Linked DNA regions of Homo sapiens: regions 2, 3 and 4 are each linked to region 1. The links come from fine-mapping of genetic effects on plasma protein levels. A gene starts in region 1. Each other region holds a variant in brackets. All regions are shown on one strand. Distances are from middle to middle.

The links. A credible set is the group of variants that fine-mapping cannot tell apart. PIP is the posterior inclusion probability: the model's chance that the variant is causal. The UK Biobank Pharma Proteomics Project read protein levels with antibody pairs (Olink). The fine-mapping took linkage between variants from a reference panel, not from the people measured, so its PIPs are less certain.
Region 2: its variant is the best candidate, but not a certain one, in a credible set for the plasma level of the SLITRK2 protein (UK Biobank, PIP 0.81).
Region 3: its variant is the best candidate, but not a certain one, in a credible set for the plasma level of the SLITRK2 protein (UK Biobank, PIP 0.67).
Region 4: its variant is the best candidate, but not a certain one, in a credible set for the plasma level of the SLITRK2 protein (UK Biobank, PIP 0.85).

The regions. Positions count from the first base shown.
Region 1 is chrX:145,810,222-145,818,333 of GRCh38, forward strand. It overlaps SLITRK2 (SLIT and NTRK like family member 2), which reads left to right and starts at 7,608. Exons shown (of 5, transcript NM_032539.5): 1 at 7,608-7,805.
Region 2 is chrX:145,423,061-145,431,172 of GRCh38, forward strand. No RefSeq gene overlaps it. Among named protein-coding and RNA genes, the nearest start is that of SPANXN1, 180 kb to the left of the region's middle. The variant G/A (reference allele first, on the strand shown) is at 1,784.
Region 3 is chrX:145,414,025-145,422,136 of GRCh38, forward strand. No RefSeq gene overlaps it. Among named protein-coding and RNA genes, the nearest start is that of SPANXN1, 170 kb to the left of the region's middle. The variant C/T (reference allele first, on the strand shown) is at 6,361.
Region 4 is chrX:146,978,682-146,986,793 of GRCh38, forward strand. No RefSeq gene overlaps it. Among named protein-coding and RNA genes, the nearest start is that of CXorf51A, 170 kb to the left of the region's middle. The variant G/A (reference allele first, on the strand shown) is at 3,929.

The sequences.
Region 1 (8,112 bases):
GATGTGAATTTTTCTTTTGACTCTGCCTGTATGACTGAATAAAATCACTTCACCTCTCTGAGCCTCATTTTCCCCATCTATAAAATGAAGATGTTGGACTAGAATGGATCTTGCCATTTACATCAGATTCCCTTGAGAGTCCTATAAAAGTACCATTCCCAGACTTCACCTTCAGAAAGTTCTATTCGGTAAGATTTTAGAGGAGCTCAGAAATCTTCCTGTTTAACAAGGGCCCAGGGGATGTGGATGTTGGAGATGAACACAAACTACAAAATAAGGTACGCTGAAGCTAGATCCCCTTCCCATCCTACCATTCTAATAGCCTATGGAAATTTGAGTAAAAATAACAATTATGGCTGGGCACGGTGGCTCACACCTGTAATCCCAGCACTTTGGGAGGCCAAGGCAGGTCATGAGGTCAAGAGATTGAGACCATCCTGGCCAACATGGTGAAACCCCGTCTCTCCTAAAAATACAAAAATTAGCTGGGCATGGTGGCGTGCGTGCCTGTAGTCCCAACTACTCGGGAGGCTGAGGCAGGAGATTTGCTTGAACCCGGGAGGCAGAGGTTGCAGTGAGCTGAGATTGCACCACTGCACTCCAGCCTGGCATCAGAGCGAGACTGTCGAACAAAAAAAAAAACATGATGATATCTTTATCGTAGAAACTTATATGTAGTGATAACCCATTTCAAGTAATCATTTTATCATAATATAAACTGCTCCCTGTAGTGTTTATACTTTTTGTTGATAAAACATCTAACTGTGAATGAAGGAATTCCCAAATCAATTATAAAAGAAAGAAAAGAAGGAAGGAAGGGAGGAAACAGGGAAAGGAAGGTATTGATAGATAGGCACATACATAAAACACAAACTCTTAGGCTATCAAGTGCTTTTATACCCAAAATAATCATCAGCATTTTGCAAGTAGAAAATTCTTAAACATTACATTACTTTGGTATTTCAATGAAAGATAAGAATTGAACACGCATGAAAGAAGCTTTGTAAGCCTGCAGTTTAATTGTAGATCACTTGCCCTGTTCCCCTATTATTTTGAGACTTTTTACATAGAATTATCAGTTACAGTAATTTATTAAGGTGGGTTTTTAAAATTATTTAAGGTACTGATATGGTTTGGCTGTGTCCCCATCCAAATCTCATCTTGAATTGTAGTTCCCATAATTCCCACGTTTTGTGGGAGGGACCTGGTGAGAGATAATAGAATCATGGGGTGGTTTCCCCCATACTGTTCTCGTGGTAGTAAGTCTCATGATGAGATCTGTTAATTTTATAAGGGGTTTCCCCTTTCACTTGGTTCTCATTCTCTCTTGTCTGCCGCCATGTAAGACATGGCTTTCACCTTCTGCCATAATTGTGAGGCCTCCCAGCCATGTGGAACTGTGAGTCCATTAAACCTCTCTTTTTTTTTTTTTTTTAAATAAATTTCCCAGTCTTGGGTATGTTTTTATTAGCAGTGTGAGAACAGACTAATACAGGTGCTTTGCATATTAACACTGAAAATTGATCAAGAAGTTGGATGTTTAATTTAATATAGGTATTATGGTCCATCTGTGTCCTTGAACTCTACTTTAGCCAAACCACATACTTAAAAACCATAGAGAAACACAACTTGATGAAGCCAGGTAAGCTGTGATCTACATCACCACTGCAGCTCAAGAATGAATTTGGCTAATGGCCATAGCAAAGATAACAAATCAACAATTTCATTGGAATTCAATACACCCCAATGTTGCAATATAAATCAAAGCAGATCCATTCAGAACCTTCAGTAAATCATATGACATTTGAATTCCAAGCAACTGGAACTTTACAGCAGGGATCCAGGTTTAGTCAAAATTGTTATACAATGTTTATTTATATTCAAGTATAGGAGTTACCTGAAATTGAGTGATTATATTTTTTAAAATTGTAACCAGAACATCAGTTCATTAATTTGACAGTTGTCTTTCCATGCTGCAAATAATAACCAGCGTTCATCATTTAGCAGTCATGTACAGCGCTCCCTACATATTAGTATTTTTATTGAAAAATACATTAAACAGTTCAATATATTCAAATTAAGGCAAATAAATTTTCCAGTTCTAATTGTGCCATTCTCTAACCTCGGTCAACTAGACCTATATATGAAAAGCTAAAGGATCAGCATACTGAATTTATTATTCTGAAGCAACGATGTGTAGCAAAAAAAAATAAGCTTGCTTTTGCCTCCTTTCAAAATATTAATAAAGTGACACTGACCCCACTCCTGTACTTGTGTTGCTGTGGTGATGCCCACGGTGGAAGAAAAATTTGGTGATAATTATGCTTTCAATATTGGCATGGTTTCCTGAGATTCCCGCAAAGTGATGCTTTCAAGATGCTGCATATAATTCTTCCACCTCAGAGACACTTCAGGCTATTCTTCTAAGAGAACTTCAGGTGTATTTAGGTAATCTAAAACTCATAAAACTTGAGGCTCATTTTCTTTTCAATTTGCTTAGGAATATAGTGAGACCAAAGGCAGATGCAAAAGTTACTTAATATATGTCCTGGGGCCGTTACATCTGACTAAGAGGTTACCTGACCTACCATAATCAGGTGAAGAGGGTTGTATTCCAAATGTCATTGTACTGTCACTTAAGAAACTGCCTGGGAGATGAAAAATAGAAGGGGACAAAAATAATTGATATCACATCTGAGTAATAAGTCATCAGGATTCAAGGTAAAAAACATCCATTCTCCTCACATTGATTTGCAATGATGGTTGAATGCGGCATCCAGTTATTACTGGAAATGATTTTATTTACATTCTAGATCTTACTTGCCTCATTTCTAAACCTACAATTTTGAAACTCTGCTTCATTTTGTGCAAATCACAACTTCAGGTAGATCTGGGGTATGTCATCCTTGCCATTTTGTTCATATTAATAGACTAGTCCTCTTCACAAATGATGACATTTTTAAAAATCAGAACTACTTAGTGCAAATCCTGAGTAGCTGCTCCTCTGACCGTAACTCTTTAGAACTGGGCATCTTCTATGCAGACATTTTTGAATTTTCCAGCAGAGTCAGCATTAAACTCTCTACCACAGCACATACTTTACCATATATTTATACTAGCCAAACATAAATACATAAATAAAATCAACAGAACTTATTACAGAGGCTCAACTGCATTATACCATTCCAATAAAGTGCAATGTCAAACCTAATAAATTTGGCTTCCTCCTGAACACATTAGGTTGTAACTCCAAACCAAAATATGACTTCCAGCTGCAGCAAAATTCATAAGATAGAATGTGTCAGGATAGATGAAATACCTACTAATGCTGTCCTGAGCCTTATCTGTTAAATTTGTGGCTTTTGCCATGTATATGTGCTCCCAAGTCTAGTAAGCTTAAATGTGGTTCTTACTGATAAATCACTGGACTCAGTCAAAAAAGAGGGAGAGCCAGAGCCCTTAGAGAACAGGTATCATTAATAAGTGGCACTTGGTGTAATTGATGGGGGCACCATAAGTCTTTCTATAACTTTGTAAGACATGCAGTTGTCTTTTCCTTCTATTTCTGTACTTCCCCTCTTGATCTACTGCCTCTTTTCTCCTTTCTATCCCATTTTCCTTCCTTTCCTGCCCATTCCAGCGTGGCAGTGTTATTCAAACTGTAAGAGGCAATCTACAGTCACTCCTGAGTTCAGTTTAGTGGGCCACAGCCAAGCATTTAAAAAATCGACTACAATAGAATAATATTTCATTATATATTGTTATATTACTTATTACATTTATATAATTACACGTATGTATATATAGTATACATATGCACATTACACACACACACAAAAGCCAGTGACGCTGCTAATCCTTCTACATTGCATAGGGCAGCCCCCACAACAAATAATCATTTGACCAAATATATCAACAGTGTTGAGTTTGAGCCCTGATGTATACATATATGTAACTATTTGAAAACATCTGTAAAATGAAAGATGGAATTTTTTTGAAGTTATTTTAAATGTTTGACATTACATGGCTCCAACTAGAATCATAAATATTTTTTCTAATGCTAATTCTGTTATCCAACTTAAATTAAGATGTTGGTTTCTGACTAAAATCAACCATTTCACCAAGAATGGGAGTAAGGGTAAGTTACTTAAATTTTCTGAGTCTCACTTTCCTCTTTTGTAAAGTCTGGCTAATCATACTGGCCTGTTGAGGATTGTCATGAGAAACATAGAAAACAGATATAAAATATTTTGTATAACTTATTTATTTTAAGAAGTGAGTTAAAAATTTTTTTAGTTTAAGATTTATTTGCACATACATGTACCACCGTTCAATTTTCAAGAGTTCTGTATACATCCCATCCTTACTGACTCCACATAGCAGGTGCCAGTTTTACACATGGGGAACTGAAATTGGTGTAATGCTGTTTTTGTCCCATTGTGAGAAAGTAGCACGGGTGGAATTTGAACCCAGGTCATTGGGCTCCAAGGGCTTGGATATGTATTTGATTAAAAGAAAAACTGCCCTGGGTCTTGGCCCAGCACTATTTCAATCAGGCCAAAATGCCTGCCAAATAATCCAAATAATTGAATTGAATTGAAAAATATCCACCTTTTCAATAACATCAGGAACAAAAGTCTACAATATCCTGTAAACTATAATTACTAATATTAAGGGCATGTCCGCTTTGTTGCGTTTCTTTATTTAGGAATTTGTTCTGTGGCACTCTTCTTTGAAACCTTTGGTTGGAAAGAAACTATGTTCACTGAAAATGCAGCACATTTTGTCTTCTTTTATATGTTTTAAAGCTTTCTAGTTCTGGATAGGTGTGAAGAAGTTGAAAAAGCAACATTCTCAGGTAAATTACGTACTACACAGTAATAGGACATCCTTTACATCATCCTGGAAACATATGCGCTTTTTATCTCACTCATCGCAGGTGAAATTTCTGGTTTTCTTCTAACCTTAGAATGAAATTATAAAAACCCAGGCAAGATTTAGTTTTATTTCTCTGTTTTTCCACTAGTTTTCCAATCGGGATCTCTATGTTGTTTAGTAACACGAACTTCACAATAGAAAGTAGCTTACAGTAAACCAAACCCCCACCACATGCAATTTACCTATATAACAAACTTGCACACGTACACCTGAACCTAAAATAAAAGTTTTTCAAAAAGAAAACAGCACATGGATATAAAGATACATTTACAGTGCTAGTATAAAGAAGAATAATGTGATTTTTATTAATGAACAGAAGTACATTAATATGGTGTCTCTAGTATTCAATTCTATTTGGAAATTTTCCTCTAACACAGAAGCTTTTAGAAAATTCAGCATAAAGCAGCTTTCAAATAAATTGGCATATTTAAATTTTTCACAGACTTCAAACTCTCCTCCATTATAACTGTCTATGCAAAACCCTCTCAGAAAGTTTTATATTGCTCATCAATTTTCGTGTCTGTGCATTCAAAGCACAGCTATCCACCTACTTGAAAATTTTATGCTGACAAAAAGAAAAGTCTGCTCTTTTTAATTTTGTCTTACTATCAGTGTGGTCCCATGTGGAAAGGCAGGCTGCTAAATGCTTTTCGAAGGCTGGTGAACAGGTTAGACTTGCTTACAAGGCTAATTAAAATTGATGCATGCCATCTATTACATGTTACTACTGGATCTAAATAAAGTATCACTTTTCATCATTAATGCCATGTTCCTTCTCTACTCTGTATAGAAGTTTTTGCTTATTTTGTATGTTCCCTTTGGCTACAGACACATCACCCTTCTTAGTAAACTGTCTGAGTTTTTCAGCATGACTGTCTCATTATTTCTGTATTGGAATGGCCTCTTAGCTCTGTGTTTTGCAGTTGTTTATAACATCTACTAAAAGCGACATGAAAAGATGACACAGTCAGAAATACGGTAAAGACAGAAGTAACAGTATTAACTGACCTCATTTAGTTAATAATATGATGTGCTCAGTGCACTGCTTTTAGTCTGTAGCAAACAGCACATTGGATGTTTACACTAATACAGATATTGTAAAAAGAAGAGCAATGCTTCTGGATATATAACCGTACATACACTGCCCACGTGCTTATGTGAGAACTATGTTATTCCGAAGTTGCTTATCTGAATGGTAGGAAGATTTCAAAAAGGCTTTCTCAAGAATGAAATAAAAGGAACAGTAATGACCCTTACAACTCCGAAGATACGATTATAATTCTTCCGACTATTATTAAAGCAAACTCTGTACATCTTCATAATATAAGATTGCCAGTAGTTTTCTTTTTAAAAAGCCCAGCATAATCTCCTTAGAAAACCATTATGAAAGAAAGCCAAGAAGAGAGGACAGGAGAAGCACAAAAGATTCCCACGGGAAGGACAAGAAAAAGGTGGTTGTCAGTGCTGTGAGAACGAGTTGAAAGGCATGGGAAATATGGAAACAGACAAATTCCAATGCAGATCCACTAGCTGGAGAGGTAATTTTGCGTCTAATTTTGCACCTCTCTCCTCGCCTCCCCGTCTGCTCTCCACCATCACGCTTTTCGACAGTAAGAAGGATTTGGGGTTTTGCAGACTCTAGCGGGCATGAAAAGGATAGGGGGTGGCAACGACTTGAATTAATGACGTTCTCCTACAGGATGGAGGGGAAAATGACTTAGTGTCATCAAATGAACTCCCTACTCCTGGCATAAATTTATCAAACTGCAACTTTATCTCGAATACTCTGGAAGAGTAGAGGAGAGGCCCTAGAGAAAGCAAGTCTTGAGGGGAAACGCAATGCTCTTGGCAAAAACCGCACCTCCCTCTTGAACTACACTGACTCTTTTCACAGAGCGCCTTCCTTTAATAGAATCACAACCACCTGGACTACTAATAAGAGGAAGAAGAAAGGAGAAAAGGGAAGGGAGGATGGCAAAAATCACGCTCTAGAAGATCCAGGCAACGTCGTCGTGAAGAATAAAGGGAATCAAAATGGGCACTGGAACGCTGCTAAGGGCTTGCTTTGTTAACACACTTGCACAACTCAAGTTCAGCTCTATCTTATGTTGAAAGTCCTTGTTTACGATCCTCGTAGGAGGTTCTTAAATATCTGCCTGCGAACTCCCAAAGACTGGGCGCTTACTAGTTAGGGGAGGCAGCTGTCCCGGAGGGTGTCCAGCTCGGATGGCTGACTGCTCTTTCACTTGTCGTTAACTTCCACCCAGTAGTCTTAGTCTCCCCTTGGACATGGTACCGACCGTGTGCCATTCTTATTTCACTTGACCGAGCCCGAGCTGCAGCCCAGGGTGGAAGCCGCAAGGGCTGGGCAGAGTTCCAGGCAAGAGGGACCGAGAGGCGTGAGCAGTGCTCCGCAGCGCTTGTCAGAGAAATGGAGCAGCGGCTCCTTTGTGGGCTCTTACATCCCCGTCCTGGGTGCACAGCCCGGATATTTGATCTGTGGGGTGATTGATAAGTGAGGGAGAGGGGGGACGCGATCCCTCCCTCCCTCCTCCCTCCCTCCTCCCTCCTCACTCCCTCCTCCCTCCTCCCTCCCTCCTCCCTCCTCCCTCCCTTCTTCCCCTCTCCTCCCTCCCGCTTTACTTCCCTCCTCCCTCTCGCCTCCCTCCCTCCTTCCTGCAAGAAGCGTTGCCCGTTGGCTAGCTGCTCGGTGGGGATCTGCCTGCCCTGGGGGCGCCGCCCGCGCTCCCCGCGGTGCTCTCGCTCCTGGGCTGCGCCAGTCCGAGGCGGTGCCGGCTCCTTTGCCTCCCCGAGTCGCAGATGCTGCGGGCGCCTCCGGGAAAAGATCTGGGCGGCGCGCTCGCTCGGTAAGTTCTGAGCACTCAGGGACGCGGTGGCGACGCGGCCAGTGAGCCGGCTTTCCTCAGTCCGTTGCCTTTCCCGGCCACCTCTCCTTGCGAGGGGCACCAGCGTGGGGAGGCTGGGCGCCATCCGCGGAGGGCAGCTCGCTGGCGGCCGCCCTCTACCCTCAATCCCCACTGGAGATTCCTCACCCCGGGACCGTCCGCGCGGGCGTGGTCGGGCTCCGCGCCTCGCGCAGCGGGGTGGCACAGGCGGCCAGGGAGGGCCCACGCACCCGGCGCGAGCTAGAAGCCTCCGGTCGGCCTGCAGTGC
Region 2 (8,112 bases), 390 kb before region 1:
CAGCATAGGACAGCCAAAATCTTCAGGCAGTGGTCACAAGTTGAAAGACGCCCCCAGATGGGGTTTCCTGATATAACCATGGGTGGGGACGAACTCCTTCAGCCAGGGCCAAGGTAAGGGAGAGTGAAAAGTGGGCTGTGAATGCAGGTGTCGTGAGTGCAGGAACCACAGGTGCAATAGCCTAGTGCTTGGCTTTGCAGTGGGTGGGGAGGGGAGTGGTCTGAAGACCAAGGCTGCTGTCTCCATGGGGAAAGCCTATGGCTCCAGGGAGTTGCGAGTTCTGATTACAGGCTGGCTGGAATTCAACTCGCTGCTGTTAGTGAAACACTGTAGGAGTGAATCTGCCTTAGCAAGGGCATTGGGAATGGTGTGGGGCTTACCACCTGCTACTCCTCACTCCCTGCACAAACACTTCTGTGCAGCAGAGACAGCAACGCTCCCCAGTGGACTATAACCAGTGGTCTGAGGCACATTCCCATCCCTCGACGCTGACAGAGGCTGCTACTTGTCCTGCACATGAAGCCAAGAGTGCAAACCTGCCTGACCCAGCCCCTACCTGGCTTTGCCCCTTCACTCACCCTGGTGGCTTAACGAAAAGGACAGAATCTCTTGGGAGCTACACGGTCCCACCCGATGCCTGAGAAACCAGAGTATCATCCCTGGGCAACAGAAGACAAGTAAAAATCCCACTGCTACTACCACAGCTGGTGCTCCTTTGCAAGTGCTACTTTCTGGCTGGAGGCCAACCAATACAGTCCATTACAGCATCTCCTGGTAGAATAACACTGCACCCAGGAAGGAGAAAATGGCTGTGTGATAGCTATCACCCCTTCCTGCACCATGCTGACTAACTTGCTATTGGTCTGCCAAGGCAAGACTAAGCAAAAAGAACAAATCTGGAGGCATCACATTACCTGACTTCAAACTATACTCTAAGGCTATAGTCACCAAAATAGCATGGTATTTGTTTTTAAAAAAGGCACATAGACCAATGGAACAGAATAGAGAACCCTGAAATGAAGCCAAATACTTACAGCCAACTGATATTTGACAAACCATGCAAAAACATAAAGTGGGGAAAGGACACCCTATTCAACAAATGGTGCTGTGATAATTGGCAAGCCACATGTAGGAGAATGAAAGTGGATCCTCATCTCTCACGTTATACAAAAATCAACTAGATTAATCAGACTTAAATCTAAGATCAAAAATCATAAACATTCTAGAAGAAAACCTTGGATAAACTCTTTGGAACATTGGCCTAGGCAAATAATTCATGACTAAGGCCCCAAAAGCAACTGCAACAAAAACAAAAATAAATAAATGGGACTTAATTAAACTAAAAAGTTTCTACACAGCAAAAGAAATAATCAGCAGAGTCAACAGACTCCCAAAGAATGAGAGAAAATATTTACAAACTGTACATCTGAAAGAAGACTAGAATCCAGAATCTACAAGAAACTCAAACAAATCATCAAGACAAAAACAAATAACCCTATCCAATAGTGGGCAAGGGACATGAATAGACATTTCCCTAAAGGAGATATACAAATGGCCAACAAACATATGAAAAAATGCTCAACATTACAAATCATTGGGAAAATGCAAATTGAAACCACAAGGAGACACCACCTTACTCCTACAAGAATGGGCACTATTAAAAATTCATAAAACACTAGATGTTGGCTCGGATGTGGGAAAAATGGAATGCTTATACACTGCTTGTTTGAATGCAAATTTGTACAACTTCTATGCAAAACAGTATGTAGATCCCTTAAAGAGC[G/A]AAAAGTAGATTTACCATTTGTATTACTCAGGGCTCTCTGGAAGGACAGAACTAATGGAGTTTATTAAGTATTAACTCACAGGATCACAATGTCTCACAATAAGCCCTCTGCAGGCTAAAAAAAGGAGAGCCAGTCCAAGTTCCAAAACTGAAGAACTTGGAGTCGGAAGTTCGAGGGCAGGAAGCACCCAGCATGGGAGAAAGATGTAAGCTGGGAGGCTAGGCCAGTCTCTCTTTTCACATTTTTCTGCCTGCTTTATATTCTAACCATGTTGGTAGCTGATTAGATGGTGCCCACCCAGATTAAGGGTGGGTTTGCCTTTCCCAGCCCACTGACTCAAATGTTAATCTCCTATGGCAACACTCTCATTGACACACCCAGGATCAATACCTTGTATCCTTCAATCCAATCAAGTTGACACTTGGTATTAATCACCACACCATTTGATTGAGCAATCCCACTACCTGGTACCTACCCAAAGGAAAATAAGTCATTATGTGAAAAAGACACCTGTGCATTTATGTTTATAGCAGCAAAATTCTCAATTACAAAGATGTGGAAGCAACCTAAATGCCCACCGACTAATGAGTAGACAAAGAAAATACTATTCCATGGTATACCATGGAATGCTATTCAGCCATAAAAAGGAACAAAATAATGTGTTTGCAGCAACTTGGATGGAGCTGTATGCCACTCTTCTCAGCGAAGTAACACAGGGATGGAAAACAAAATAAACACATGTTCTCACTTTTAAGCAGGAGCTAAGCTATGAGTAGGCAAAGGCATATAGAGTGATATAATGGACTTTAGAGACTCAGAAGTGGGAGAGTGGGAGAGGGGCTACGGATTTTTTAAAAAGTACACATTAGGTATAATGTACACTACTAGGGTGATTGGTGCACAAAATTTTCCTAATTCACCACTATAGAATTCATCCATGAAACAAAAAACCACTTGTACCCCAAAAGCTACTTAAATAAAAATTAATTTTAAAGACATGGATACTTATAAATGTCTTCAAAGTATCTATATATTCTATCCCTAGGCCATCCAAATGCTTCCCTGTCTCCACAGTACCATCTTGCATTTTTTATTATCATTCACTTGTTGTTTTTAAAAGGGACAACTGTTTCTCATTACTTGAAGTCTCTGAGTTTGACAGTTTACATACTAGCTAAAGTTTATTTTTAATGACTTCAATACTTCAGCATTTATTTTCAGACAAATGCAGAGTGGGAAAAATTTTGATTTTCCTGATATATATGTTTCCAGTTGAGGTCCAACAATGCAATGCTCTACTGGCTTGTTTCAGCTGTTACACCAAAAATAGTGTGTCATGTGTGTGTGTGTGTGTGTGGTCTATTTAGTTCCATTTCTTTTGCATTTCCATTGACCCTGGGTGTGTCAGTGAGAGTGTTGCCATAGGAGATGTCCAAAACAGTTTAAGTAATATTTTCCATGTGTGATGAAACTGAAAAAGTGACTAAATTTGTGGATTTATGAGATGATGTCTGATTTTTAAAAAATGTATAGTACACAGCAATTTATTGTTATATTAACCTGGGTCAAGAATAGCTGAAACTCTTCTCAACTATTGTTTCATTATAAAGAATTCCTGCATATAATTTGTTATTTGGAAGAAATATGCACTAAATAAGGTATCTTTAAACATAAACACACATAAAACGATGCTATGTATTGATCAATGGATGGAAATACTGTGGCCACATGCTTGCAGGATACTAATTCTGTAATTTCCCTAGGAGCAATGACTTGGTATTTGCTAACTGACTGTTTCCAGTGACTTTATATAACATAATCCCCACGTGCCAAGGGAGGGACATGATGGGAGGCGATTGGATCATGGGGGCAGTTTTCCCCATGATATTCTTGTGATAGTGAGTAAGTCTCATGAAATCTGATCGTTTTAAAAGTGACTCTTCCCCCTTCACCCCTCACTCTTCTCTCTCCTGCTGCCTTGTTTCCCCTTTGCCTTCCACTATGATTGTAAGTTTCCTGAGGCCTCCCCAGCCATTCAGAACTGTGAGTCAATTAAACCTCTTTCCTTTATAAAGTACCCAGTCTCAGGGAAGTTCTTTATAATGATGTGAAAATGGACTAATACAACCATTATAGTGATACGGATTACTTTACTCATGTAGACATATGCACATGTATGGTGTGTGTGTGTGTGTGTGTGCATGTCTGTGTGTATAAATATCTATATTTTAAAAATTATGTGCAGTGATCATACAAGTACTTTATAATCAGAAAAAAAATTATTACAAATATTTGAGAACTGTTTTCCACCTGTTTATTTGCTTTGACCTTTTTGGTGTGGTCTGATTTATAAGAAGGATTTTTTAGGGAAATCCTGTTTTCTTTCATATGGGGTCAGGGAGGTCAGTAAAATTGTCACGAGTGAATTTACTATAGATGTTATTAAACTAAGTGTATTTTATAAATTATATGTGTAAGCACATAGATAGATAAAAGCAAGCTAATGAATTTGAATTGAGCATTTCACATTCTGGGCCATTCTGGGTGTCATCTATGAGAATACAGCGGTATAGTGTCCTGCACAAAACCAACTTCTGAGCTAGAGAGATGAGATGGTAAGTAGAATTATAAATGCGAAGATCCATTTGACAGACTAGGATTTGAATGAAGCTTATTATAGTATAAAATGAAATGTAAACTAGTAATAGCACAATAAGACATAAGACTGCTAAGAACTTTGTGATATGAGTTTGAGCATACACACTAGTATTAAAGATTAGACTGGAGTTAACTTTATTCTCTTGGTACATTTATATAATTACAGGAAGTCATGCATCCTCATTCACTCACTGTATCCATTTATCACATGAATATGCTTTACAAATATTACTGCTAAGACAAAGGAAAACTACACGATGAAAACATCTTTATTTTTCCTCTTCTCTTTAGGGTCTAACGTTCTGCAAATAGTAAAGTCTATTTTGCTATGTTTAGAAAAATGCCCAGCATGCTATAGAGGAGGGGTCTTCAAACATTTGGATGAGATTACAGTGCTACAGGAAAGAGAGTTAAATCTTCAGAGGGTTTATTCCTCTTGGGGAAATTTCTTTCCCTACTGATAGTCCACTATTTGTGAGAGTATCCTGACAAAATCAAGATTTATTAATTCTTCATCTGGTGTCCTGCAAAACTCACTAGGCGCCTAAGGTGTATACTCAAAACACTTTATCGGTTCCTTGTTTACACATTTCTATGTGATTTCTTAACCAGAGAAGCTATTTTGAACTGCATATTTCTTACTAGGACTCCACTAATACCTCCCTCCACCCATATGGATAGCCATATAGTTATTTGGCCACCACGCTGCCTATCATTCATTGGAGTTGATAAGAGAAGAATAAAAGTCAGGAAGTCAAGGAAGTGTTGGCTCTACATTAATTTTAAGACAGTGGTTTTCATTTTGGAGGGAGGAGTCCAAAGATTCCATTGAGTATCTGATGAAAGCAGTGGACCCTTTCCCTTAAAGGTTCTGAATACATATATGCCACGATTCACGTAAAAACTGAAAGTATTTTTTAAAATGTTATAAAACTTGCACATGGATTTTTTAAAAATATACATATTCCAGGTCTAAAACTTTCACTTAAGAGTAATTCAAGGCCTTTCCTCTCATTCTGTTGCAGAGAGAAGTCAGCTCTGCTATCATTGAATTCACTTTGATAAACTGGACTGCGGAGATAGAGAGTTGGGCTTTCATCATAAATGAACTTAGAGCAGCAATATCCTTATATAAAATACAAGAATGGTACCTGAAGGATAGGGGCCCATAAGGCCACTGGATACGTCCTCCAGTTCAGTCAAGTTATCCTGCTTCTTAAATGGGTTTATCCCATTTCTTCAGGGCCTATGGTTGCATGGCTAAATTCCTAAATAATATACATTTATCTAGTGTATCCTGTGTTGATTCACCAATATATATGGGATGGCAGTAAATTGTTAGAGTAGTAATGAGGGTTTTCACATGTGACCCCACTACATCTTTCTTTACTGTAGGCAAAATTAACACCAGTCAACTAGGAAGAAGAGAGTATGATGACAGCAAGCTGAGCTTTTAAATCTACAAGAAGATTCTTTCTTGTACAGCTTCTGGAGATATGATTGCTATGGAGCCAATTTGTACATGTGAACTAAGATGTGAGTGTCTGCCAACATATTCTGGATTCGAGAGACTGAAATATGCCCCCATGCTAATGAGGTACGGACTCTGATTTGTATTTAAATGATGTAATTTTGGAGTCAAATGCCTTTGCCTGAGTGAAAGGAATATAGGTTTTGAAGTCAGACACAGCAAAGTCTGAATTCTAGCTCAGGCACTTCCTATGACCTTGTTTATATTGTTCTTATTCTATGAGTCTGTTTTCTAATCTGTAAAAAGAGTATAAATACTATTTACCTCAGGCACACTGCAAAAATTCTAAATAGTTTAAAATTCCTGATCTTAGCTCTCAGTAATTAGGAACCATATCTGATTATCACCCCGGGGCCAAAGCTTGTGTGCCAGTGTGATTCATCAAGGTAATTATTAAAACTATCAAACAAATTTCGGCATTTCTTGATACCAGGATAAGAAGCCCATGCTTTTTTCCATAAACAATGGGGAGTCATTGAAGATCTATCTCTCCTAATTTTTATATGAATGAAAACAAAAAAATAAGCTAATAAGAAATAATGAAAAGTTATTTCTATATCACTGCAAATTCAGATTCATTGAATTATCTTCTGCAGGCCTCAAAACGCAGTCATTTTTCAAGTGAATGATTTAACATTGCAATGACATTGCACTCTGTTGTTGGTAGTGTTTTCATTATTAGAGGAGCACGTTGTGGACAATTAGCCTGCACTTCAATGATGACATTTGTTCAAAAATTGCCAGGATCACTCATGAAGGCTTGAATTGCACTATTTGAAGAAAAGTGAAGGACTAAAAAAGGTGAGGTTAACATAAGTCATATTTACTTTTATCGTAGGAGTTATAATTGCTGAAAGCCTTCCTAGTTGGCCCAAATGGGGAAACTGAGTCCCCAGTAAGAGAAGAGAGTTGCCTTTAATTGCATAGTAAGATAGAAACAGATTTTGAAGTGGAACAGGAGCACGAATTTTATTTCTAATACTGAGAAGTATGAATGAAACCTTTGTGGGTGGCAGGTCTTTATTCAACAGCTACGTGATCTCCTACTATGGGTGGTGTCAGTAATTCAATGAGTATGTAAGTCTCCATGATTTACCAGGCACTATACTAGGTGAACACATCAGAAAAACCTACAACCCTCATGGGGCTTATAGACTAGAAAACTCAGACAGCAACATATACACACTTGTTATCTAATAATAATTCTGTAACTCTGATACAGGAGATGCACAGGCCTAAGAAAGTATATAAAATGGGGAGATTATATAGTTAAAGAGATCAGTACATATTACTGCAGTCCCAAACAAGTTTTTAAATTATTTTAGAGGCTGCTCTATCCATGAAAATAACTATAAAGGCTATACGAGTCTTTATGTATCAAGTAACTCACAGTTTATTCGCATCCTTTCAAAAACCATGATCTTAGAGTAAGGTCCAACCGATATGTTGTCTAACTCGACTTTATATTTTCATTACAAAATTTCTTACTACATAAGTGCAAAAATTATCCTCAGATTTCAGTTTGTGTTTCACTGGTTTGGAGCTATTACCTTCACCAGGGGGTGATTTGGGCAGGTCTAACGACTAGGGGTCCCCTTGGGACAGGGCCCCAGTAAGAGGACCTTTAACCTATGTCTGTGGCTGTACAGTCAGCCGATACACAAAATAATGTTTAGAATTTGAGTTGGGCCTGGAAAAGCAGTAAGATTTTGGATAGAGTTGGATGTGAGAAGAACCTCAGTTATTCCAATCAGCAAAAGCAGAGAGGGGGATGTGTAGGAGGCTAATTTAGTTAGAGAATAGCAACTGAATCAGTTGGGCTGGGACATTGAGTATGTGAAGGATATAAATAGAAGATAAGATTAGAGCAGCGGCACCACAAAGAAATAATCAATGCTTAAAGTGATATATTTGAAGTGAAATTGTTTGAGTCTCAACCACCAGGCTAAGGAATTTTAATTTTATCATGTTAACAATCGGGAGTCTTTGAAGCTTTTTAAGAAAAAAATATAAACAGAGGAAGCAGTGTTTAGGAAGCCTTTTAAATATACAATAGACAGTTGAAAGGGAAAAAAAAGTGGAGCCTGATAGAAAGTGAAGGATACCAAAACATCAAGGAAAATAAGCATGGCCGCATAG
Region 3 (8,112 bases), 400 kb before region 1:
TAAAAGCCGAGTCACCCCTAATTATTCCCTACTCTATGTATCAACGTTTCCCTTCTCACTGTGGACCCTACCTATCATGATTATCTATCTTTATACTAATCCCAAAGTCATTTTTTTCCATGAATATAAATTATAAACCTCCACAAGACCGAATATTTGAAGAAGATGAAGTACATTTTCTAATTCATCTATCTCCCCATAGTACGTAGCATTAGGCTTTACATAAAATAACTCAACAAATGCTGATGACTGTCAGCCCATGTATAATCACAGCATATTGTGAAATAATGCATTCTCTAGGCCAATTTTCTCTAGCATATACTTAGCCTCTTAGTTTTAGGAGGGTAAATATAAATTACTCAGGTCACTGAGATGCTTCTGAAAAAGCATCCTTTATAGTCAGTTAATTATCACCTTAATAATAGTTTGCAATTATTAGACTGTGTCCAGAATTTAAAAATGACAAATTAGAACATATGAAGTCTTGTTGCGCTGATTTCCCCCCTTCAGGTTGATCAGCTTATAAAGCTAACTATAAATTAGGTACTTTTCTCTTTGAAAGAAGCCTATGTCCAAGGAGAGTTCAGTGGATCTGTGCCTAATTTGAAACTGATCCAACAATAAAACACAAAGATAAGCAGAGACTGAAAACAATTCAACCAAATACATTGCTTTGTGTTAATCACTTTCCATTTTTAAATAATCCAGGAGGAATAATGGTAACATTACCTTGATATTATTACTTGTATTATATATCAAATATCAGACAATCTAAAGTACAGAAACTATGCCACTATTAAGCTCTAGTTGCTTTTTTCTTTCTTTTTTGAGGAAAGTAAACTATTCTTTATTTAAGAAGTGATTCATCAGCCAGTATTTTTCTTAGCACTCAATCACGTCTAATTTTACTTTCTTATCCAGGCATTTTCCCCTAAGGCTGGTGATTCTTTCAATAACAAGAGTTTAATGTTCAAGATAAAAAAACAGGGATATTAGTAAAGGCTTCTAAAGAGTGAGATTTATTTTTATCCTTGTACTTGGAATACTGTTATTATGATGATTTGACTTTTTCAATAACTTATTTATTCTTTTCACTGAAGTCAGCATTATCCCACCTATTCACTCTCAAATAATTATGTATACATGGAACTGTGGACATGCACATTTTAGTATATGTTTGGGATAATTGCTGTGTTTGAATTGGTTGAGAATCAGACCACTAAGATCTGAATTAACGCTATTTGACATAGAAACCAGATGGAGGAATGGGCAAAGGTTATGTGTAATGACCCCACTATATAGGAGACAAATTATCTTTTGCCAAGATGTACTCTCAGTTCTCACTAGGGAATCTTATTCACTTCTGTATCTTCATGTGCCATCTGAGCCCTGTCCATCTGTGATTTACCTTCAGGCCAAAAATCACTTGTGTTTTTGATCCTAATGAAAAATAACACTCAAAACATATAGATTATTGCTTCCTCTAGCCCATATTTTCATACTAAGTCTATTTTGTGTCAGTAGTCTACTCTGTAGCACTTTGAATTAGAAAAGAATAAAGAATCCATCCAAACATTTCCCGACCAAGAAGAAACCATTGCCTTCATGGCAGATAATATTTAGCATTACATGACTTGCAGTGACACTGAGGTATATCATGCATGATCCCTACTTGCTCACAAACATGGCACATAAAGGCATCCATATGGACCATGACTAATTGGCATGAATTCTAAACTGTTGTGTGTAGCCAACTGAAAAGGAAAACAATAGACAGTGAAAACGATTATGAAAGTTAAAAGTCCCATTATAAATGCAATACTGGTATTGTATTTACTGATGTACCGATCAAATATAACTATTTGTAAGACATAAGATACTTAACATCCAGTAGGTATTCGGTACTTATAGAAAGTTTCTGCTTCTACAATTAACCAGATTTATGGTGCATTATTATTATTATTATTATTATTACTATTGTTATATTTTAGTGCCATATATTGGTTCATCACAAAGCATTGGTCAAATCCTGGGCAGGGAACTGGTTTACTCATGTTACCCTAGTGAGCACTATTTTATGCGCATCCCTTTTGAAGCCATGTTATCAAAGAGGACAGCTTTCCCACATGATGAAGGAATATTCCTTAATAAATAGTATACAAATAGCTATACTCTCCAACTAGAGTCACATTTAGTAAACATTACTAGAGTTCTTCAAACGAAACTTACTAGGTAATCTCAGTTCCTTACAGAGGGTTGATCACATCCCAAGTGAAGTGTAGTCATCAGGTAATCCTACCACTTTTCACCACCTCTATTCTTACGGCTTGATTCCAAAAAAGTCATCTCTTCTCACCTAGATTATCACAATAGTCTCCTAACTCATTTCAGAAACTTTTTCAATAGTCTCTTTCAGTCTATTATCAATATAACAACCTGCATCATTACCCTGCTCAAAATTTTGTAATAGCTTCTGCTCTTACTCAGAATATAATACAAATCCATACATTGTCCATGAAGGCCCAACTTAACTTACTGCTCCCTCATTTTCTTACTGACTTTAACTGCTACTCTACCTCTCATTCACCTTGCCACAGACATACTGCCCGCTTGTTATTCCTGGAAATTACTGTAATTTTGCCTCAATTTTTGTGCACTGTTTCCTTTGCATGAAATGTTCCTCCCTTAAATGTATACAAGACTCCATACCTCACTTCTTTCAAGTCTTTACTCAAATTTCAGTTTTTCAGAAAGGCTGTTCATGGCCAACCTAACTAAAATGCAACTACTCATTCATATCCCATTTTTCCACTTTTTTCTGATCACTTATTGTGTATTATACTATATATACTTACTAATTTTTATCTTTCACTTTCTACATCTTCCATTGCAATTTAAGATTCACAAGTACAATTCTTATATATTTTATTTATAACTAACTCCCTAGTTAGTGCCTAGAATATTGACTGGTCTGTAAGAGTATAGAAAGACACTAATCCAAGCATGTTTTGGCATGTTTTGTAGGTAAAAATAAAGTAGAAAAAGTTTTAAATGTAAAGTTGAAGTGATTCTTTATTTTATTTTACCATATAGATTACCTTAAGCCAGCAAAAACGACATACATTCAACCAGCTATTATGCCTGATAATGCTATTGTTCCTTCTTACCCATATCGTCATTCACTTATGCCTCTAGTGAAGTATTCCTCAAAGTAATACAAAACAGAAAATGTGTGTGTTCTCAGCTCATCAATTAAAAACAGTCATGCTTGGTGCAGTGGCTCATGTCTGCAATCTCAACACTTGGGGAGGTTGAGGTGGGAAGGATTCCTTGAGCCCAGGAATTAAAAACCAACCTGGTCAACACAGTCAGACACCATCTCTACAAAAATAAAATAATTTTTTAAAAGCCTGGTATGGTGGCATGTACCTATAGTCCCAGCTACTTGGGAGGCTAAGATAGGAAAATCACTTGAGCCCGGGAGGTGGAGGCTGTGGTGAGCCATGATTGTATGACTGTACTCCAGCCTGGATGACAGAGCCTGTCTCAAATAAAAGTCATATAATAAAACAAACTTGGCTTATTCAAAATAGCCTTATTATGGATGGATAGTAGGGAGGTGGTAGGGAGTGCAAGCCTAGAGAGATCTTTTACTAGGCTGTCATCACTGAAAAAATTATGGTAAATGGAAAATCATGGAGAATCATTGATTTAATTCAGTGTTTTATTGTGTTTCAGCCAATGGAAATAGAGAAACAGATTCTTATCACAAAGAAAATTTTAATAACTTTATAGTTTTTGAGAATCAAATTACTTATTAGACTAACTACAGTATGATTTGCATATTTTTCCATTTATACTGTTAGTGGACCAATATTTGTACAAATAAATTGACCCTCCTAAGGTAGAAATTGTTAAAATTTAGAGCTCTGTATTAAAGTTATTGAAAATATTGAAAAGTGGCCCTGTTGAATTGCCTAGTTAATGTAAAAATGAACATTCTATACAAACAAGAAAAGAAGTCAGATATTGTGCTTTGTTGACTTTCAGAATCAAATTAATCTCTTAGTAGTGGGGATTTGGTATAACATAAAAGTTTATTCTGCCTTTTGACATGTTGATACAGAGGTTTTACTATCAGGTTCCAAGAAATTTGTCAAGCTCCAGCATATTTGCCCCCCTTTCCTATATCATGCAGAGAGAGAAAAATGGAACTGCTAGCCAAAAAGCATTCATACATTCTCTTAAATTGTTCTACATGGCCACTTTTTCAGGAACAGGAAACCTGAAAAAAATAGTGCAGTATAACTGGAAAGTCTTCAGATTTAATGGAAATTTTCTTTGTTCTTATAGTGAGTGATATGGTTTGGTTGTGTCCCCACCCATGAGAATCTCACTTTGAATTGTAATAATCTCCACCTGTCAAGGGTGGGGCCAAGTGGAGATAATTCAATCATATGGGCTGTTTTCCCCATACTGTTTTCATGATAGTGAAAAACAGTCTCATGAGCTCTGATGGTTTTATAAAGGGGAGCTCTCTTGCCTGCCACTATGTAAGACATTCCTTTGCCTCTCTTTTGCCTTCCACCATAATTGTGAGGCCTCCCTAGCCATGTGGAACTGTGAGTCCATTAAACCTCTTTCCTTTATAAATTGCCCAGTCTCAGTTATGTCTCTATTAGCAGCCTGAGAACAGACTAATACAATGAGTCTGGTTTAAAATTAGGCACATAGACAAATAGCTTTCAGATTGTGAGCTATTCAAGGACAACTTATAAATCCAATCAATATACATGCCCACAAAGGTCAGAATTTAAAACTTCTTGATTTAGGGGTTTGAGTGTGCAATTATTGAAAGTGCAGTGAACCCCTTGGTGTGGAAATACTTTCTTTTCATTCAGATAGCAAACCATAAGAGATAATAATAGCTTGAAATCAAAGGGGGAATTCCTCAAAGGAAAATGATCATGCACTGGGTGAGTTTAATCTCTCTGTGATATGAGTTCACCAGGAATTTGTAGAGCTAGGTGATATGCATTAAGTATTTTAAATAGCTCTAAAGTGTTTGTTTTGTCTCATCATTTAAATCTAGCTACTTCCAAAGAGGAACAGAGAGAAAATATTCCATTTTAATAATACACATACAGAACACATGTCTTAGGATAAATATCAGATGAAAGTTTGGAGGCTATAGAAAGAAAAGGGAGAGATAATAATGTGTAGGGTTATGGATAATTTTTACTGTGTAATATGCAGATATAATATTTTTAAAGCCATTTCTTTTATTTATCCTGGATAAAAGCACATGTCATAGAAAGGAGTGGTGGCTGTTTGAGGAGCAGGTCAGGGGTAGATAAAGTAGAGAAGTCAAATATGTTCCCTCATTTCTTGGGCTGCCTTTTCATTACGTTGATTTTTTTCCTTTTCTGTGCAGAATCATTTTAGTTTAATGTAGCCCTACTTGTTTATTTTTGCTTTGGTTTCCTATGCTTTTGGTATCTTCCAAAAATTTATTGTCAAGACCAGTGTTCAAGGAGCTTTATCCCTATGTTTTCTTCTAGGAGTTTTAAGGTTTCAGATCTTACATTTAGGTCTTTAATCAAATTTGAGTTAATTTTTTATATGGTTTAGGAGGAGGGTCTGATTTAATTCTTCTCCACGGGTAGGTCTCATTTTCTAATACAGTTTATTGAAAAAACCATCCTTTCTCCATTGTGTATTCTTGGCACTCCTATCAAAGATTGGTTGACTATATATGTATGGATTTATTTATGGGGGTTATATTGTGTTCCATTGATCTATGTGTTAGTTTTTATACCAGTGCCACACTGTTTTGATTATTATGGCTTTGTAATATAGTTTGAAATAAGGACATGTGATGCCTCCATTTTAGTTTTCCTTTCTAAAGATTGCTTTAGCTATTTGGGGTCCCTTGTGGTTGCATATGAATTTTGGGATTTTTTTTCTATTTCTATGGAAAATACCACTGGAATTTTGGTAGGGATTGCACTGAATCTGTAGATCTCTTTGAGTTGTGTGGATATTTTAATAATATTAAGTCTTCCAACCTATGAACATGGGGTGTCTTTCCATTTATTTGTATCATCTTCAATTTCTTTCACTAATGTTGTACAGTTTTCAGTGTACAGATCTTTCACACCATTGATCAAATTTATTCCTAATTATTCTATTATTTTCATGCTATTGTAAATGGAATTATATTTTTAACAGTTTTCATAGTTCATTGTTCGTGTATAAAAACACAACTTACTTTTGTATTGTGATTTTGTATCCTGAAACTTTAGTGAATTAATTTCCTAGTTCTAACAGTTTTAGGTAGAGTCTTTAGGGTTTTCTACA[C/T]ATAAGATTATGATATCTGCAACAGAGACAATTTAACTTCTTTCTTTTCTATTTTGGTGCCATTTTTGTTTAATTGCTGTGGCTGGGACTTCTAGTACTATGTTGAATAGAAGTAGCAAAAGTGGTTCAGAGATAGATTTTTAACATCTATATGTGATATTTATTCACAGGAACAATAGCATATTCATCTCTCCTAAATTCAGACACTGGACTTCTTAGTGTTGGCTATAGAAAGATATTATTGTTGACTATATTTAAAATAGAATTTATCAATAAATACCTAAAATGTATTAACATTTTGTTAATTGCTATTAAGAGCTGCTGAAATGCCATAACTTATATTGTGTCTAGCTGTTTTCAACGTAATTTTGCTTTAATTATATTTTTTTAATTGTTCAGACAATTGTGGTAATAGCATGTGTGTAATTTTATTTACTGTATTTTTCACATAACATGCATTCCTTATAGTTTTAAATATTCTATATGAATTAATTTAATAGCTACAAAATATTCTGAAATTTATCTTAGCTATTTTCCAGTTGTTAAAAACTTGGATTTTTTCCTCATATTCTTGAATATAATATTTCTGTAATGAAGATATTTACGTTTAAAGTTTTGTTCCATATTTGGGAATACTTTCTTAGTATAAATACATAGAATTAAAACGAATGGATTTGCAACTTCAGGTCTTGTGGAAAGCGTATGCCAAGAAGGAGTTAGAAATGCAAGAGATTTATTGAGAAAAATACTTGTGAAATCATAGAGGGCACAGAAGTAGGCAGGGAGAGATCCAGATCACAATGTACATAAGACACTTGTGAAAGAGAGGAAAAGAAAAGTAATTATTATGAAAGATTCTCAAACTGTCATGAAGCTTGGAGAAAGTCTTCACTAGCCCAAAAGAAAGGAGCTCTGGTTATTGTACATTAAGTGTCCCATGTTCTGCAGAAATGCCTAAGCTTTGGTAGCCCTACCATGCTCAGTCAGCTGCCAGGGAAGAGCATGGCTTTGGAGGAAATGTTGCAACAAATAATGAAGGTACTGTATCTAGTGAGTGTCAGCTAATTGCATTCCTCCAGCTGAGCTGCAAGTGATTTCTTGACTCTCCACAGCTATTCCAGCAAATATGGACATTTTTAACAATAATGTAGTATCAAGTTATTTTCTGAAAGGTCTATAAAAATTTACACTCTACTACCCATGTTCTGTCACCAGCTTTTACTGCCATTATTGGTAGTAATTATTAGAACTTTGAAAGTTAAAATTGCTATTCAACTGTTACTTTCGTTTGTATTTTTTGATTAGTAATGATGTGATTTTTCCCATTGGTTTGTTAACCAGTTATTGTTCCTTTCTGTTAATTTATTCCTAACGGAGACTGAATATTATTATATATTTATATATGGTACAAATAGTTTTCTTATTGTTTGCTTTTACTTTTTAATTATTTTAATTCGTTAAAGCTATACCTTTTAATTTTTAGCGATTTTTGCCTGTCACATTAATATGTGAAAATACTCCATAGATTTGAAAACCATTTCTTTATCTTTTTTCTATTTATTAAATTCTTATGTCAGAATGCTATATAAGAATTTATATTGATGTGCTATGACAATGTAAATTTAATGTATCCTAAATTGACAATGTTCTTAATATCAATTACTGAATAAACTTTACTTTCTCTACTGATTTTTTATAATAGCATCAATAATTTTAGATTCCCATGAAAATCCATTATCCATATCTTGAAAC
Region 4 (8,112 bases), 1.2 Mb after region 1:
AGCATCATTTATTGAATAGGATGTCTTTCCCCTACTGCTTGTTTTTGTCAGCTTTGTCAAAGATCAGATGGTCATAGATAAGAAGCCTTATTTCTGGGCCCTCTATTCTGTTCCATTGGCCTATGTGCCTATTTTTGTACCAGCACCATGCTGTTTTGGTCACTTTAGCCTTATAGTATAGTTTGAAGTAGGGTAATGTGACTCTTCCAGCTTTCTTCTTTTTGCTAAGGATAGCGTTGGCTATTCCGGCTCTTTTTAGGTTCCAAATAAAATTATTTTTTTTTCTAGTTCTGTGAAGAATGTCATTGGTAGTGTGATAGGAATACTATTGAATCTGTAAATGGCTTTGAGCAGTGTAACCATTTTAATGTTATGGATTCTTTCTATTCATGAGCATGAGATTTTTTTTCCATTTCTTTGTGTCTTCTCTGATATATTTGAGCAGTGTTTTGTATTCTCATTGTAGAGCTCTTTCACCTCCTTTGTTAGCTGTATTCCTAGGTATTTTATTCTCTTTGTGGCAATTGTGAATGGGATTACCTTTCTGATTTGGCTCTCTGTTTTGTTGTTGGTGATGTATAGGAATGCTAGCAGTTTTTGTACATTAATTTTGTACCCTGAAACCTTGCTGAAGTTGTTTATCAGCTGTAAGAAGCTTTGGGGCCGATACTATGGTGTTTTGTAGACATAGAACCATGTCATCTGCAAACAGAGGTAGTTTGACTTCCTCTCTTCCTGTTTGGATGCCTTTATTTCTCTATCTTGCCTGATTCCTCTGGCTAGGACTTCTAATACCATTTGAATGGAAGTGGTGAGAGTGGGCATCCTTGTCTTGCGCTGGTTTTCAAGGGGAATGCTTCCAGCTTTTTTTCATTCAGTGTGATGTTGGCTGTGGGTTCGTCATAAATGGCTCTTATTATTTTGAGGTATGTTCCTTTAATATCTAGCTTGTTGAGAGTGTTTAATATGAAGAGATGTTAAATTTTATCAAAAGCCTTTTCTACGTTTATTGAGATAATCAGGTAGTTTTCATCTTTAATTCTGTTTATGTGATGAATCACATTTATTGATTTGTGTGTGTAGAGCCAACTTTGCATCCCATGAATGAAGGCTGTTTGATTGTGGTGGATTAGCTTTTTGATGTGCTGCCAGATTCAGTTTTCCAGTATTTTGTTGAGAATTTTTGCACCAATGTCCATCAAGGATATTGGCCTGAAGTTTTCTTCTTTTGTTGTATCTCTGTCAGGTTTTGATATCAGGATGATGCTGGCCTCAGAATGAGTTAGGGAGGAGTCCCTTCTTTTCAGTGTTTTGAAATAGTTTCAGTAGAAATGGTACCTGTTCTTCTTTGCACCTCTTGTAGAATTCAGCTGTGAATCCTTCTGGCCCTGGTTTTTTTCTTTTTTTTTTTTTTTTTTTTTTTTAGGCTATTTATTATGACCTCAATTTCAGAGCTGGTTAGTCTGTGCAGAGTTTCCATTGCTCCCTGGTTCAGTCTTGGGAGGATGTATGTGTCCAGAAATTTATACATGTCTTTTAGATTTTGTTAGTTTATGTGCGTAGAGGTGTTTATAATATTCTCTGATAATTGTTTGTATTACTGTGAGGTCAGCGGTAATATCCCCCTTATTATTTCTGATTGTGCTTATTTAAACCTTCTCTCTTTTCTTTTTTATTAGTCTAGCTTGTGGTCTCTCTATTTTATTAGCTTTTTGAAAAACCAACTCCTGGATTCATTGATCTTTTGAATGTTTTTTTGGATCTCTATCTCCAGGTCAGCTCTGATTTTTGTAATTTTTTGGTCTTCTGCCAGCTTTGGGATTTGTTTGCCTTGGTTCTCTAGTTCTTTTAGTTGTGATGTTAGATTGTTAACTTGACATCTTTCAGGCTTTTTGATGTGGGCATTTAGTGCTATAAATTTCCCACTTAACACTGCCTTAGGTATGTCTCAGAGATTCTGGTATGTTGTATCTTTGTTCTCATTAGTTTTAAATAACCTCTTGATTTCTGCCTTAGTTTTATTATAAACCCACAAGTCATTCAGTCATTATTCAATTTCCATGTAATCGTATGTTTTTGAGTGAATTTCTTAGTCTTAAGTTCTAATTTGATTGTGCTGGGGTCCAAGAGACTGTTAGGATTTCAGTTCTTTTGCATTTTCTGAGTAGTGTTTTACTTCTGATTATGTGACCAATTTTAGAGTAAAAGTGCCATGTGGTGATGAAAAGAATGTATATTCTGATGTTTTGGGGTGGAGAGTTCTGTAGATATCTATCAGGACCATTTAATTTAGAGCTGAGTTCAGGTCCTGAATATCTTTGTTAATTTTATGTCTCAGTGATCTGTCTAATATTGTCAGTGGAGTGTTAAAGTCTCCCACTATTATTGTTTGGGGGTCTCAGTGACTTTGAAAGTCTCTAGAAACTTTCTTTATGAATCCGGGTGCTCCTGTGTGCGGTGCATATATATTTAGGATAGTTAGCTCTTCTTGTTGAATTGATCCCTTTACCATTATGTACTGTCCTCCTTTGTCTTCTTTTTCCTTGTTGGTTTAAAGTCTGTTTTGTGACAAACTAGGATTGCAATCCCTGCTTTTTTCTGTTTTCCCTTTGCTTGGTACATTTTCCTCCATCCCTTTATGTTGAGCCTATGTATGTCATTGCATGTGAGATGGGTCTCGTGCAGAGAGTGTACCAGTGTGTCTTGGTTCTTTATCCAGCTTGTCACTCTGTGTGTCTTTTAATTGGCGCATTCAGCCCAGTTACATTTAAAGTTAGTATTGATATGTGTGGATTTGATCCTGTCGTCATGATGCTAGCTGGTTATTTTGTTGACTTGTTTATGGGATTGCTTCACAGTGTCACTATTCTGTGTAATAAAATGTCTTTTTGTGGTGGCTGGTAGTGTTTTTTTTTCTTTCAATATTTAGTGCTTACTTCAGGAGCTCTTGTAAGGCAAGTCTAGAGGTAACAACTTTTCTCAGCATTTGCTTGTCTGAAAAAGATCTTATTTCTCCTCCCCTTATGAAGCTTAGTTTGGCCAGATATGAAACTCTGGGTTGGAATTGCTTTTTTTTTTTTTTAAAGAATGTTAAATATTAGTCCCCAATCTCTTCTGGCTTGCAGGATTTCTGCTGAGAGGTCTGTTGTTAGTCTGATGCCCTTTGTAGGTTACCTGGCCTTTCCTTATGGCCACCCTTAACATTTTTTCTTTCGTTTCAACCTTGGAGAATCTGTTGATTATGTGTCTTGTGGATGATCTTCTCACAAAGTATCTTATGGGGTTCTCTGCATTTCCTGAATTTGAATGTTGACCTGTCTAACAAGGTTGGGAAGTTCTCATGGATTATTAATTTTTAAGTCATACACTTATACAACATTGTTAATTGCATTGTATTAATTAAAATAACTATAAACACTTATTTAATAACTGTGTATCTTTAAAAATTTAGTGGTTGCCTTAAGCTTTGCAATGTGCATCTCTAATTGATCACCATCTACCTTCAAATAATACAGCATCACTTCATGTAATGTGTAAAAACTTCATTATCATTTCAATTTCTATCTCTTCTCTTTTACTATTGTTGTCACACATTTTGCTCAGATATATGTTATAAACCTACAACATAATTGATACTACTTTGTGCTTTAGAAAGTCAATTTTCTTTTAGAGTCATTATAAATTAGAAGTTAAAAAACCAAAATCTTCTATATCTACTTTTATTTTAGCCATTTTTGGATATCTTCAATTTTTTGTGTGGATTCATGTTTCTGAATAGTATTATATTTTTTCAGCCTGAAACACTTTTTAAAAGGGGTATTCTGGTTCAGCTCTGCTGGCAATGATACCTTTAGCTTTAGTTTGTCAGAAATCATGCGACCACATGTTTGAAAATTATTGTCACTGAATATAGACTTTTGGATTGGCC[G/A]TTTATTTTTGTTCAGTACATTAAAGGTATTGCTGCATTGTCTTCTAGCTTACATAATTTCTGAGAAAACTTTGCTGTAATTCTTGTCTCTTTTTTCTTTTGGTACAGTAGAATTATTTTGTGCTTAAAAAAGAGAGCTGTCTTAATGTTCTTACTTCATCCTCAGGTTTCAGTGTTCCCTCTACATCTGCACCATGGAGGAGGTCTCTTTCCATTGTCTTACCCCTTACCCAGCAGTAAACTGTTGTTTCTTGTAATTTTGTGCTTGTAAGTTAGGTAGTGAAGTCCGGGAGAATCTCTTTTAGATGGCAAAGCCCCATTCTTTCACAGGCATTTGTCATTCTCTGTGGTCTTTCTCTTCCACTGTCTTTCCACCTCAAACTATACCTTTTATCTTTGGTGACTCTTGTAGAGCCAAGGGCTTCTTGCCCCATCACTGCAGCAGAACATACTTGTCTAGGCTCATGACTGATTTCTGGTAGTCTTCTAGGGACAGAGAGATTTTTTTAAATCTTTTTTTTAACCTTTCCCAGCTACAGTGATTCTTCACTCCTGCCCTTGGAAGAATTAGACTTACTGCCCCTACCAAGGATATTTACAGATGATATGTTTTTCTGTAGGGCATAAGGATTAGAGAGGAGCTTCATACTTTTTACACAACAATGGCATCTATATTCTTTCAGGCTTGTACCACCAAGAAAAGCTTTCTTCAATCTCCTGCTTTTTTTTCCCAATCTTTAACAACCAGGTGGAAGTTGGTGGAGAAGATCCTGTCTGTGGTAGCAGCCCTTTTGTGTCCGAGGCTCACAGGAGTTCTGTACCTGCACACTAGCCTACACTCTTCTTTTAGCAATGTGTTACAATCTTTAACTGACTTCTTCTTTCCTACTTGTATACACTTGATGTTTCTTTATTCTGCCAGTGGGTGAGCCAGTGTTCATGTCCTATCTCTGATTTCTTTTGTCATTGCTTCATCATTGATGTATTCAATAAATGTTATAATTTCATAGCTTTGTTGTTGTAAGAATTTTGTTTTGTTTTGTTTTGCTTTGCTTGTTATAGTGATTTTCTTTGGGAGAAGTGACACTTTCTTTTCTTTTTAGATTCATGAATTATCAGGAAAGGAGAGGACCTCTAATTACACTTTGAGAAGATGCTTCTATCCCTCATTACGCTTTGAAATTGAAGAATTTAGATATATTTAAGTCTATTTCACTCTTTTTAACTGATAGATGAATAAACTGTTCTCTTTATCAATGATCCCTCTTGGAGACCATTTGGTATTTCTGCTTTTTGGTTATTAATAACAATGCTTCAATAAATGCCTTTGCACATGTCTCCTTGTAAACATATGTAAGGATTTCCCTGATGCAGCTAAAACCTAGAAGTAGTTTTATTGGGGAGAAAGGTTTTACATTTATATTATCAACATTTTAAGGTACTACCCATTTGCTATTCAGACTGGTTTGATTGGTTTACACTTCTGCCTATAATAAATGTTTATTATTTATTATTTATGATTACTGTTTATCCATCTACTGGCTGGCATGTGATGTCATCACACAATTTCTGCAAACACAATGGATGTGAAATTGTATCTGAGTTGCTTAATTTGTGTTTTCCTGACTACTAGTAATGTTGAGCATCTTTTACGTTTTTTATGTACTTTATTTTTTACATTAAATAAATTTTGACAAAGAATTTGTGTCCGAATGCTAAGTGTTAGAAAATGAATTAAGTATTGGGAATAAAAAAAATCAAGAAAATGGATAATATCCCTGTCCTTACAGAGATTACATTGGCCATATATTTTCTTCTTATGGATCTTATCTGCATATTTATGGCCCATTTTTCTACCACATTGTTTATCTTTATAAAAAATGAGCTATAATAATTTTATATCATGGATATTACTTTTGTGCATTATATCTATTATAAATATCTTCTTCCCCCATAACTACTATTTTATTTTAAAATATTTTTTTATCCTGGAAATTATTTATTTAAATGCATTTAATTTTATCAATATTGTCATTCAAGTTTCGTGTCTCTTTCATCTAATTTAAGAAATTATTTACTATTTCATTGTAATAAACATATTCTTTTATTTTTTAATTATAAAGCTTTACATAAAACTGTGATTTACACGTGTGTATGGTATGAGGGAGGTATTTTATTTTGTTACTCTCTATATACATTTTTTTCATTCATTTAGAAAATATTCAACCAGGATTTCTCTCTTCTCTCAGAAATACTTAAGAGAAAAATTATCTACCTTAATTTAGCTTATGGTCTGGAGTAGGAGACAGCCAATAAAAATAATATGTAATAAGATGTAGATAAGTGGTAAGTTCTATGAAAGTGATGCAAGGTAAGGAAGGTATAAAGTGAAGGTGAGTGGGCCCTACTTTATATAGAAGAACTGTCTTTGAAATGATGACTTTTGAGCAATGACACAATAGACCTGAGGGAGTGATCCATGCAGATACTTGGGAAAATGCCTTGCAGGTTGAGATAGCAAAGAGTGCAAAATTCCCAAGGCAGGAGTTCCTAGGAGAATGAGGAATCCACAGTACCAGAATCAGAGTTAACTTGGGGAAGAGAATTAGAAATGTGATACGAATGGGGGACGATATTGTGCAGGGATTTGTAAGCGATCATATGTTTGGCTTTTACTCTATAGTGTATAAAAAGGCATTAGGAGGGGATTGAACAGAAAACTGAAAGGACTTAACATTTTAACAGGATTGTAGGCAATAGGCTTCAGACCGTAAAAAAAAAAAAGACAAAGGTAAAATCAGAGAGATCAGTTAGAATGTAGTTCTCTAGGGAGTAATCTAGAGGAGGGAGAATTATGGTTTGGATCAAGATAGTATCAATAAGAATGAAGAGAATAATTCAGATTGGGTAAAGTCAGCAGTAAGGATAGTGAGAAGTGCCCAGATGCTGGATATATTGTGAAAATAGCACTTAGATAATTTGCTGTTGGATTAGATGTGAGATGAGAGTTAAGAGTCAAGGATGATTCCAAGGTGTTTTCATCTGAGCAATTGGGTGAATGACAGTGCCATATAATGAAATGGGGAAGACTGCAGAGGAGTGAGTATGGTAAGGGAAAAGATCAGGAAATACTTATTAGACATTCCAATGGTGATGACAAGTAAACAGCTATATATATATATATAATCTAGAATTCAGGAAGGAGGCACAGGCCACAGAAAAATGGGAGTGTATGTTGCTTTCATTTTTATTTGTTTTTTTATATTATTGTGCTTTTTCACAATTTGATTTTGTTGGTCTTTTTCAATTAAATCTTATTCATTTTGGAAGCACAATTCAAGTATTCTTCATTCTGTAAATCCTTCCTTGAGTTCCCTTAGCTGAGCTGATTATTATCCTCTGTTTCTCTATCCTTTTATATATTTCTTTATCCTAGTGCTATTATTTTTTTCTATCTCTCCTTTTCTGTCTCACAAGCCAGATAATGCTCTCATTGAAGGCAGGCAGTTTGCCTGATTTGTATTAGTACTTTCAACAACTCACACACACACTCTCTCTCTCTCTCTCTCTCTCTCTCTCTGGATTGACACATAGTAGGTACTTAGTAAATATTTGTTGAAAGAGCTGTATATGCTGTCAGAGGATCAGAAAGAGGAGCCTACTTCTTATCTCTTCTTTGTCCTTTTAGTAACTTTCTTCATGTTTTGTACATGACAGAAACATTCCACTGGCTAGTTGGAAGAACATAATTGTGTTTGTTCTATTTTAATTAAATCTTGTTACAAAATATATGTGACATAAATGGAGTTATCTCTTTTGCAAATGGGTGATATAATGGGTTTGCATCCCATTAAGCTTTATAAAATGTTGTTACGTCATACAGTGTGACAAGCAAGAACAGCTCATAGCTTAAAAACTGGAATCATTTGAATTGCCTTTATTCAGGATTGTGGAATTTTTATCATAAGATCACAGTAGGCTAAGTGCTTTACCTTAGGGTAACTGAAATGTGATCCCCACTGTGGGAATTTGTGCCTCAAAGAATGGCATCTTTCCATTTGTGTACAACTGTGAATGACGATTTTTGTGTCTCTCTCTTTCAAAATACAGTTTTATGCTAAAATTTAAATGCTGCTTTTCAAGATAAATTTGTATAAACTTTCTGCTGGGATTCAGAATTTCTG